2 separate regions of the Homo sapiens genome follow, and region 2 is linked to region 1. Evidence: fine-mapped expression QTL. A gene starts in region 1. The other region holds a variant in brackets. All regions are shown on one strand. Distances are from middle to middle.

Evidence for each region. PIP is the estimated chance that this variant, and not a neighbour inherited with it, causes the effect. A credible set is the group of variants that fine-mapping cannot tell apart.
Region 2: its variant is the best candidate, but not a certain one, in a credible set for the expression of LRRC15 in tibial artery (GTEx, PIP 0.88).

What each region holds. Positions count from the first base shown.
Region 1 is chr3:194,366,638-194,372,009 of GRCh38, forward strand. It overlaps LRRC15 (leucine rich repeat containing 15), which reads right to left and starts at 3,106. Exons shown (of 2, transcript NM_130830.5): 1 at 3,024-3,106. RefSeq lists an enhancer at 2,565-3,529.
Region 2 is chr3:194,347,045-194,352,416 of GRCh38, forward strand. It overlaps CPN2 (carboxypeptidase N subunit 2), which reads right to left and starts at 4,284. Exons shown (of 2, transcript NM_001080513.4): 1 at 4,198-4,284. RefSeq lists an enhancer at 3,760-4,609. The variant C/T (reference allele first, on the strand shown) is at 2,087.

The sequences.
Region 1 (5,372 bases):
CTACCAATATTTCTCTCAGCGGCCCCTTCCGCATCCCCATCAGGAACTGCAGTTTGTGCTGAGTTGAACCTGGCAATAGAAGCTGCTTCCAGAAACGGTACTTAGAGCCTGGAGCATCAGAGGTGCAAGAGCTTTCTGAGTGCACCTAGTCAAACCGTCTGCTCATTTTGTAGTTGGGAAAGCTGAGGGGGTCCCCAGGGAGCAGAGACTTGCCCAAGGTCACACAGTCCGTTGGGGACTCCTGACACCCGATCAGGGCCCCTAACTACAGAGTTTGGCAAATCCCTGAGCCTCATCACCGGGATTTGGGACCTTGTCAACCACACGCCTGGCAGGGCCTGGGATTGGGGAGGAGGTGGATTTGCACCCTCCAGCTTAAATCAACTGAGGCTCATACAATCCACCTTCCCCCTGCCCAGCATGATTCGCCAAGGGCAAGTGCTTATTTCAACTACCAGGCTGCATGGGTTCAGGGATTTCTTCTTTAAGGCTGCTCTGATGCTGGTGTTTGTTCAATTCCACCTGAGTCTCCTGGAGGACTGTAGGGAAGGGACAGAGGGTTCACCAGAAGGTGTTGACCCCTGTAATCTCAACAACAAGGCTGGAGATGGAGTCAAGGCTGCAGATGGATTTGTGATGAGGGGTGTGTGGATCTTTATTTTTTTATTTTTATTTATCTATTTTTTTTGAGACGGAGTCTTGCTCTGTCACCCAGACTGATGTGCAGTGGTGTGATCTCTGCTACTGCAAGCTCTGCCTCCCGGGTTCACACCACTCTCCTGCCTCAGCCTCCCGAGTAGCTGGGACTACAGGTGCCCGCCACCACACCCGGCTAATTTTTTGTATTTTTAGTAGAGACAGGGTTTCGTCGTGTTAGCCAGGATGGTCTTGATCTCCTGACCTCATGATCCTCCCGCCTCGGCCTCCCAAAGTGCTGAGATTACAGGCGTGAGCCACCGCGCCCGGCCAGTGTGTGGATTTGAAACTGGGACAGCTGCACCTTTACCTGTGTCTCTGCTCAAATGTAGAGGCAGGACCTGGGGCCAAGGTCACAGGCCCCTGATTTGGGAATACTCCACCCCAAACAGAAACCTTCCTTGAACTCCAAAGCAAGACTGGCCACACCCTCACCGTCCACCTTGATCAAGCGGGGACCCGCGTCTCTCATCTCTCATGGCCCTTCAAAGCCAACATGTTGCTTATTGTTTGAAAACAGAAAATCAGTTAAAAAGCGCAATTCCTTTCCAGCCCTTCTGTTGGGGATCCTCCCAGGTCTGGCTTCCTGCAGAGGCCAGAGCAGGACTGTCATTAGCCTGGCAAGGGTGGCAGGAGAAACTGACAAACCGCCCAGCAGAACAGGAGAACTGCCCCAAAAGGGCTCTTATGACAGCAGCCACGGGCTACAAACAGCCCCCTTCTCAGGCGGGCACCTGGGATCCCAAAGTAGAGAGAAATGGATCAGCCCCTGATCAAAGCATCTGGAAGCAGGTTCTAATTTCTGTGTCCAAAAGCCAAGACAGGCCATAAATCTGAAGCAGCAGTGACTCCTTCGTGGTCAGGATTCAGGGCAGCAAATTGCCATGTGTGATCACAGTCTGCTTACTGGCAGGACTGAGTCGGGACAGCTCCTCCCCCACCCCTTATTCTCCACGGCTGGATCTATTCTACCTCGCCTCACCACCCCGCCATTTACTGAGCGAGCTAAGGGAGTGTTCCCTAGCCCTGGGAAGAACCTTCCATGACCTGACTGTCTGTCGAATCTATCCAGAACTTACCCTGGCCCCGAACCCTCTCACATGCCTGCCTCATCACTGCTGAGCCCGCCCAGCTGACTCAAGACCACAGGCAAATTGGGCTGTCTGGCCCTGAATTTACTCCAGATGTTCAGTCTCTGCAGAATGAAGGAAGTGCCAGCCGTTAGAGCACTTCTAAATTAAGGAGCCAGTGGCAGCAACACATCTGAGAGCTGCCCAAGGTAAAGTGACGCATCCCAGATAACCCCAAAGGAGAAGCTGGCACGTGGCAGACAGGCACCTGGCACCTGCGACTGGAGCACACGTGTCATCTCAGAGAGAGTGCAGCTGCACCGAGGTGATGCCCTGGGCCCGGGAGGTGGAATGGCTCTTGCACTTTGGCAGGGGTGGGAGAGTCCTGAAAGCTCTGGTTTTCCACAGTTGGTTTCTTGGCCCCAGGTCCTGCCTCTACGTTTGAGCAGAGACACGGGTCAAGGTGCAGCCGTCACAATTTCAAATCCACATACCACCTCATCACAAATCCATCTCCTGCCCTGACTCCCTGCTCAAAGCCTCCAGGCTCCACAGAGGCCGACGCTTCCAGCAGGAGAGAGGGGAAACTGCCAGCATAGTGTCCCCTAAGCCACACTGTTAGAGCCTGAACAATGCTGAGCCCATGTCCGAATTCCAAATTGGAACTGCAAACCAGGGACCAGCACATCTGCTGAAGTTACACTTGCAGGAGTTATCCATCTATGCAAAGCAGACAGCTCTCTTGCCTGGGAAACCCCCATGAAGGAAGGTCTTGGGCAGAACCAAATGCGGGGCAGACCACTGGGAGCCACCAGGGCAAGTGCCAGGAAAGATGGCACAGGCGCAAATAATCTGAACCTTAAAAAGAGAAGTTCTTCCCCCAGTGGATCTAGATTCCAGAACGGTCAATCCAGTGACAAGGGGGGTGATAATTTAGTCCACTTTCAGCCCAACTTGCTGGTCTCAGACATCTCAGCACCCCAGGTTGACATCATGAGCCGCTCAGGGCAAGGGGCATAAGAGGCTGTTGAGGCATCAGCAGAGGGGCTGGTGGTCCTGGTGTCCAGGCAGTGAGGGAGACAGGCTTGCACCCCTCCAGCACAGGCTGCTTCTGTCCCTGTCCCGAGAGCATCCCCAGGCACATGTCAGCTCTGCCCCTTCTGGGGTCTCCGAGGGGAGCAGGTCCAGCAGAAATGGGAAGGGGCTGGCCGGGCCCTCTAAGCAGAGAGGAGGGATGGGGGTGGCTTGCCTACTTACCAGCAGCTCGGCGCCCGCCCGCCGTGGACAAGAGGGAGCCTGAGAGGAGGACGAGGGACGGCTCAAGGCTGCAGCATGAGTGTGGCTCGCCTAAGCTGTCCCGGTATTTAAACTATCCCGGGCGTGAGTCACTGCAGAGGGCAGTGTTGGCCCTGGGAGGGGGGACTGTGGGCCACAGTGCAGTGCCTGCATGTCCCGGGCTGACACTACAGGGTACACATAGCTGGCATCCCTAAATGTAAGGGGTTTGCTTCAACCGTATTTAAAAACTCAGGACACATTTTCCTCTTTCCTTCTTTCCCCCAGTGTATCTTTTGGATTCCTTCACTGCATTGGCCACCGTGAGAGGGGAGTTTACAACGACCCGGTAAACCCCTCCCTAAGTGACTGTGGACCCCCTGCTGCCCTGCCCTGGCCAAGGAGACAAGGACCCCGAGAAAGGGATGGAGCAGGATTCAGGGGCGTTTCTTTGCTCCTAGAAGTATTGGCAAGTGCTTCTCCCTGTGGTTCTAGAAAACTTATTCATTCTTCTCTTTCTTTCTTTCTTTCTTTCTTATTTTAAACTTTTTATTTGGCTTTAAATTTACAGACAATTAATGTGTTTCATCTGTTGTTAACATTTTGGAAGAAGCATTTACTTTAGATTCCAAGGAAAAATATAATTACGACCACTGTGTCCCCTCTAAAAACAGCATTTCCGATTTCCTTGTGATGCTGGGGTCTTTGCCATTACTGCTGCTCTGAGAGGTGCAGGCACACACATCTCTGGCTTGGGGACGGGCAATCAAGGGGCATATTTGGGCGTGAGGAGCTTCCCTATGCCCCTCACCTCTGCATTACAGCCCACACACTGCTGCCCTCTCTACCCCCGTCCCCAGTGGGGACAAAACTGTTTCTATTTGTGGTATCCCCAAAAAGGCCTGGGGAAGAGGATACAGGAATCATAGTTGGAGGGGCGGGAAGGCTTCCAAACCCCGGCTTCTCCTCCGAGATGGAGCCTCAACAAGGCCTGAGCTGCCCCAGGCTGAAGCCACCCTGCCTTTGCCTGGCTCGGTTTACCCTCTCAGCTAAGTGGGGAGAGTGATATTTACACACAGTGCCTCATGGAGTGCCAAGAGGCTTAATTAATATTTGCGCTGTGTTTTGAGATCTGCGATGAAAGGAAGATATAAAAGTGCGTAGTGTTATTACTGAAATAGTTGCTTGGGTGGCTTGTCATGGTCAAGACCTACAGCCTGAATCACGCCACATTCCTCCTCACTGTGGCACCGTGATTCAGAGCCGGAAACAAAAAGTGTCTTGTCCACTAAATAACAGGAGCCCAGGAGGGGCAGGCACTGCTTGGAGTGGCTCCACACAGCTTGAAGCCCCATCCCTTCCCCCACCAGCCTTGTTCCCACGTGCAGAACACCTTCCCTCTTACGGCCCTGATTCCTCCACGTTCCCAAATCAGGTACTTTAACTTTTCTCTTTTTTTTTTTTTTTTGAGACGGAGTCTCACTCTGTCACCCAGGCTGGAGTGCAATGGCGCGATCTCGGCTCACCGCAGCCTCCGCCTCCTGGGTTCAAGCGATTCTCCTGCCTCAGCCTCCTGAGTAGCTGGGATTACAGGCACGCACCACCAGGCTCAGCTAATTTTTGTATTTTTTGTAGAGATGGGGTTTCACCGTGTTAGCCAGGATGGTCTTGATCTCCTGGTCTCATGATTCTCGTGATCCACCCGCCTCAGCCTCCCAAAGTGCTGGGATTACAGACGTGAGCCACCGCGCCTGGCCACTTTAACTTTCTTTCCATAGAACCTACAAGAATAAGAATATCCCTCTTTTTCCTCTTCCATCCTCCCTAATCCTAGCACCCAAGCGCTCTGTGTCGGGCACTGTGCTGGGAGTGGTGGACAACACAGGGATGAATCGGCTGCATTTAAAGATGGCTATTTGGGAAGCACCTGCTGTGAACCAGAGACCCCTTGGGTACCTCACTGCAGCTCTCCATCATTTCACCTCCACCAGCTTTCTCGGCCTCACCACGTGACATTTGGAGGCAGATAATTCTTCATTGCAGGAGCTGTTCTACGTGTCGCGGGAGGCACCATGGCATCCCTGGCCTCTGCCCTCTAGATGCCAGCAGTACCCCCCGATCCAAAAGTAACAAAATGTCTCTAGACATTGCCAAATGTCCCCAGGAAGGGGGAGTTTACACAAACACATACACACACACACACACACACACATTCATGGTTGAGAACTACTGATCTGCCAAATAGTCCTATGAGTGGCAGTAATTACCCCCATTTCACAGACAAAAAAACTGAGGCCCAGGCCTGTTAACTAATTTCCCTGCAGCCATATG
Region 2 (5,372 bases), 20 kb before region 1:
CCCCTCCCTGGGAACTGGGGAGGCTGGCCCCCAGGGCCACAGTGGGGTGGCAGCCAGAGGTTTTCTGCTCCTCATCTGGGAATAAGACCATCAAATGCCCACAAATATGTTCCACACTTTCGGCAAGCCAAGGAAGTCTGGCTTTTTAAATGGGGTTTTTTTTTTTTGAGGGATAGGGAAGGTTTGGCTGGGTGCAAATGAGCTCCTTCCTCTCCTCACATTGCTTATGGGAGGGTACGTTTCTGTGCATGCCTCAAGCCAGTCTGTCATCCACCACAGAGCTAAGCCTCACTTCTTCCAGAGGGTGATGGGACCTAGAATGGGGCCTAGAACCCTGGCCCCAGACACCCAGGGACTGCCACCCGACGCTGGCTCCATGGATGTCTGCCTCACCAACGGGCCTGGATTTGGCCATTTGGGCTCCAGCTCAGCTGGAAGCACAAAGAGGGGCTTCTGAGACTTATCCAGAGTCCCTGGCTGCTCCCCAAGCCTGGTCCCCTCTCTTCTCAATCCAGCAACGTAAGTCCAGTGGCTGAGACGGTCAGGTTTGCACTGGGTTCTAGCCTCTGCTCCTGCCTTGGCCAGCCCACCCCACCCTCTGCCCAGTTCAGCCCACCCCATCCGCTGCCCAGTTCAGCCCACCCCACCCTCTGCCCAGTTCAGCCCACCCCATCTGCTGCCCTGGCCAGCCCACCCCACCCTCTGCCCAGTTCAGCCCACCCCACCCTCTGCCCAGTTCAGCCCACCCCATCCGCTGCCCAGTTCAGCCCACCCCATCCTCTGCCCAGTTCAGCCCACACCACCCACTGCCCAGTTCATCCCACCCCATCCGCTGCCCAGTTCAGCCCACCCCATCCTCTGCCCAGTTCAGCCCACACCACCCGCTGCCCAGTTCAGCCCACCACCCCCGCCCAGTTCAGCCCACCCCATCCTCTGCCTAGTTCAGCCCACCCCATCCGCTGCCCAGTTCAGCCCACCCCACCCTCTGCCCAGTTCAGCCCACCCCATCCGCTGCCCAGTTCAGCCCACCCCATCCTCTGCCCAGTTCAGCCCACACCACCCACTGCCCAGTTCATCCCACCCCATCCGCTGCCCAGTTCAGCCCACCCCATCCTCTGCCCAGTTCAGCCCACACCACCCGCTGCCCAGTTCAGCCCACCACCCCCACCCAGTTCAGCCCACCCCATCCTCTGCCTAGTTCAGCCCACCCCATCCGCTGCCCAGTTCAGCCCACCCCACCCTCTGCCCAGTTCATCCCACCCCATCCGCTGCCCAGTTCAGCCCACCCCATCCTCTGCCCAGTTGTGTCCCAGGGAGTGAAGCCACCTCTCAGAGTCCCAGTCTGCGACTGTAAACCAAGAACGACCATGATAACAATAATCATCATAATACCTCAGTCCCGGCATGGTTAGGGCTATTGTGACTCTCAAATGAGAGAACAGGCATTGGGCCGCAGCAAGAAAATAGAAACAACCTAAATGTCCAACATGAGGGATTGGTTACATGAATCATGCTACTCGGATGTAATGGAAACCCTCTCTGCTATGTTTAAAATTATATTACAGGCTGGGTTCAGTGGCTCATGCCTGTCATCCCAGCACTTTGGGCGGCAGAGGCAGGAGGATTGCTTGAGGCCAGGAGTTTGAAATCAGCCTGGGCAACATGGTAACATCTCATCTCTTCAAAAAATTATAAAAATTACCCAAGCATAGTGGTGCATGCTTGTAGTCTCAACTACTCGAGAGGCTGAGGTGGGAGGACGGCTTGAGACTGGGAGGTCGAGGCTGCAATGAGTGGGTGATTGCTCTACTGCACTCCAGCGTGAGAAGGGGGAGACCTTGTCTCAAAAAAATAGAATAAAAGATAAAATTTTAAACAAAAAGAAAATTTATTATAGATGTGTATTTATGGACAAGATGTTTGCAATATCTTAAGTGAAATATATGAAGTCTCAGAATGCTGCTTTTCCATTTTTAAGGTGTATTTGTACACAGAAAACATAATAGAAGCTTATGTACAAAATATTTGTGGTGGGGTCTGGCACTGTGGCTCACACCTGTAATCCCAGCACTTTGGGAGGCTGAGG[C/T]GGGAGCATCACCTGAGATCAAGAGTTCAAGACCAGCCTGGCCAACATGATGAAACCCCGTCTCTACCAAAAATACAAAAATTAGCTGGGCGTGGTGGTGTGCGCCTGTAATCCCAGCTACTCGGGAGGCTGAGGCAGGAGAATCGCTAGAACCCGGGAGGCGGAGGTTGCAGTGAGCCGAGATCGCACTATTGCACTCCAGCCTGGGCAACAAGAGAGAAACTCCATCTCAAAAGAAAAAAATTTGTAGTCATTACCTCTGAAAAATTGAATTGTGGATGATTTTAATTTTTTCCTTCTGCTTAAAAATATATGTTCCACATTTTTAAGTAAGAAACATATCACTTTTGCAGTAAGGTTGAAACCTATTTTATTCTAAATATTGAGATAAACATGTAAAATGCACAGCACAGTTCCACACACACAGTAGGGGCTTACTTGACTCTTTCCTTCCTGGCAGTGATGTTGCAAAGGCCCGAGGGAGCTTGTCTATCCTCTGTGTTAGCTTCTGGAAGAGAAGACAGCTGACAGGTTGAACTAAGAGGCCGTTGTGAACTGGGCACTATGCGACCCTCCCAATTTATACCCACCCTCCCAGTCCAGTGCAAGTCACACTTCCCCCATGAAGCCTTCCTGACTACCCTCTTCTTTTTTTTTTTTTTTTTTTTTTTTTTTTTTTTTTTTTTTTGAGACAGAGTTTCACTCTTGTTTCCCAGGCTGGAGTGCAGTGACGCCATCTCTGCTCACTGCAACCTCTGCCTCCCGGGTTCAAGCGATTCTCCTGCCTCAGCCTCCCGAGTAGTTGGGATTACAGGCGCCTGCCACCACATCTGGCTAATTTTTGTATTTTTAGTAGAGATGGGGTTTCACTGTGTTGGCCAGGCTGGTCTCGAACTCCTGACCTCAGGTGATCCGCCTGCCTCGGCCTCCCAAAGTGCTGGGATTACAGGCGTGAGCCACCGCGCTCGGCCCTTTCTTGGGTCCTCGGATCCCTCTTGTACTGTGTTGAATGTTTGGGCTCTTCCGCTCTGTTTTCTAGTCAGTTGCACCCACCCGACTGAGCCCGTGGTACTGCAGTCTTGCTGTGGTGTCTCTGCAAGCAGCTCTGCACCCCAGCACCTGGCTCGGGGCCAGGCACTGAGAAGGCAGTCAGGCCCTGTGTGCTGAATTGAAGGAATGTGTTTGTGGCTTTCAGTGACTTCGCATCTCAGGCCTTACTCTCATCCTGCTTAGTAGCAGGGGAAAGCACTTTAGCTCCGCCAGTGCCCCCAGCTGGGATCAGATTCTGACGCCATCACCTACTAGCGGTGTGGGCTTGTGCAAATCACTCCAACTCTCTAAGCCTCAGGTTTTCCAGACTTAATTATCACCTCTGCCCTCAGAGTTCAAATTAGCACTCCATTGGATGATAAATAGGCTAAATAAGATAGTAAATAGAAAGCCCTTAACACAGCGCCTGGCACATACTGAATGTTCAATAAAAGGTGGCCCCCTGCAGGTTTATTTCACCACAAACTTTATTATATGAGCCAGCACGCTTCTGGGAAGGAAACCAGGAGCTAGTCATCCTTGGGCCTGAGCTGGGTGCTGTGGCATGCGCTTGTAATCCCAGCTACTCAGCAGGCTGAGTGGGAGGATCGCTTGAAGCCAGGAGTTCAAGACCAGCCTGAGCAACATAACAAGACCCCCATCTCAAAAAACAATAATTATATTAATAAATAATTAATAATATTTAGTATTAATATAGGATTAATAAGTAATTAGTAATACTATTTATTATTATTATGCCAAGATGACAAGTATAAACTAGGCAGAACCAGGCCAACCTGGACATCTGGTCACCCTGCTTATCCTCTACTCACTACCAGCCTTGTAGGCCAGGACTGGCAGATCTTCATCTCACAAACCCCCGCCCCACCTTCCTCCTGCCTCTTCCCAGCAGCGCCCTAGCTGAGCACCTCAGGGACTTCTCCTCCCGGGGCAGGGGCCCCCCAGAACCGCAGCCTGCCTGGAGCTGCGGAATGCTCTGAAACGGGGGAGATCGCAAGTTCCCGTTCCTGCCCCCACGTCCCTGCAGACCCTGGAGCCCTTCAGCGACCCCGGGAGCCTACCGTGAGGGCCGAGCGGGTGGCGCCGGGCTGCCCTGTCTTCCTCAGGAGCAGAGAGGAGTCTGGTGTGGCCTGTGGTCAGCTCAATCCAGCCCCAGCGCTGATCAAAGTTCCAGGCAGTGGTTCCTCCCCTCACGTGGCCCCAGCGTCCCAGAATGTCACCAGGGTCACAGGACGGGAGAGGGCCTTGGCAAGGCCTCTGAAGATTACAAAATGACCCTGAACTCCTCCCATGTACAGAGCCCTGCCGGGGCCAAAATCCCACCGAGGTTGCAGGGTTGGCACCTTCAGGACCCCGAGGACACTCAGAAAGCTCTAGAGATTCCCGCAGGCGGCTGGGTTGGTGAGGCCTGGGATGGGGTCCACGCTCACACCCATACCTGTGAGCAGAGGCAGAGGGACTGGGAGCCTGCCTTCAGCCTCAGGCCCCTGCTGGGCTCTCAGCGCCCGGAGGCATTTCAAGAGGGCTGTGGATTTGTTGTTTTGTCTTGTTGTGTTTGTTTGCTTGTTTAATGAATGAACTTTCTAAACCCTTCCTGAATTAGAAGGGGGAAAAGCTATAGGGAGATGAATTGGGGCCCAATATGGAGAGGAGCGCTCACACACTCAGGGCTGGCCGAGGACGAAAGATGCTGCTTTGGAAGGGAGGGATTTTCCCATCTCCGGAGGTGTGGAACCAGGGCTGCAAGACACACGGAGTGTGTGTGTGCTGAGTGCGTGCATCTGGGGGTGTGCATGTAAGTGGGTGTAAATGTGAGTGGCTGTAGGGGGTGTGTGGTGAGTGCATGTGTGGGGGTGTGTTGTGTGTGTAAGTGGGTGTATGTGTGAGTGGGTGTGTGCGCGCGTGGGTAGGGTGTGTGTGTGGTGAGTGCGTGTGTGGGTGCGTGTGTGGGTGTATGTGTGAGTGGGTGTAGGGGTGTGTGTGGTGAGTGCGTGTGTGGGGGTGTGGTATGTAAAGAGGGTGTATATGTGAGTGGGCGTGTGTATGTGAGTGTAGGAGTGTGTGTGGTGAGAGCACATGTGTGATGTGTGTGTAAGTGGGTGTATGTGTGAGTGGGTGTAAAGGTGTGTGTGGTGAGTGCGTGTGTAAGTGGGTGTAGGGGAGTGTTTGGTGAGTGCATGCGTGTGGGTGTGGGGTGTGTGTGTGTAAATGGGTATATGTGTGAATGGGTGTAGCG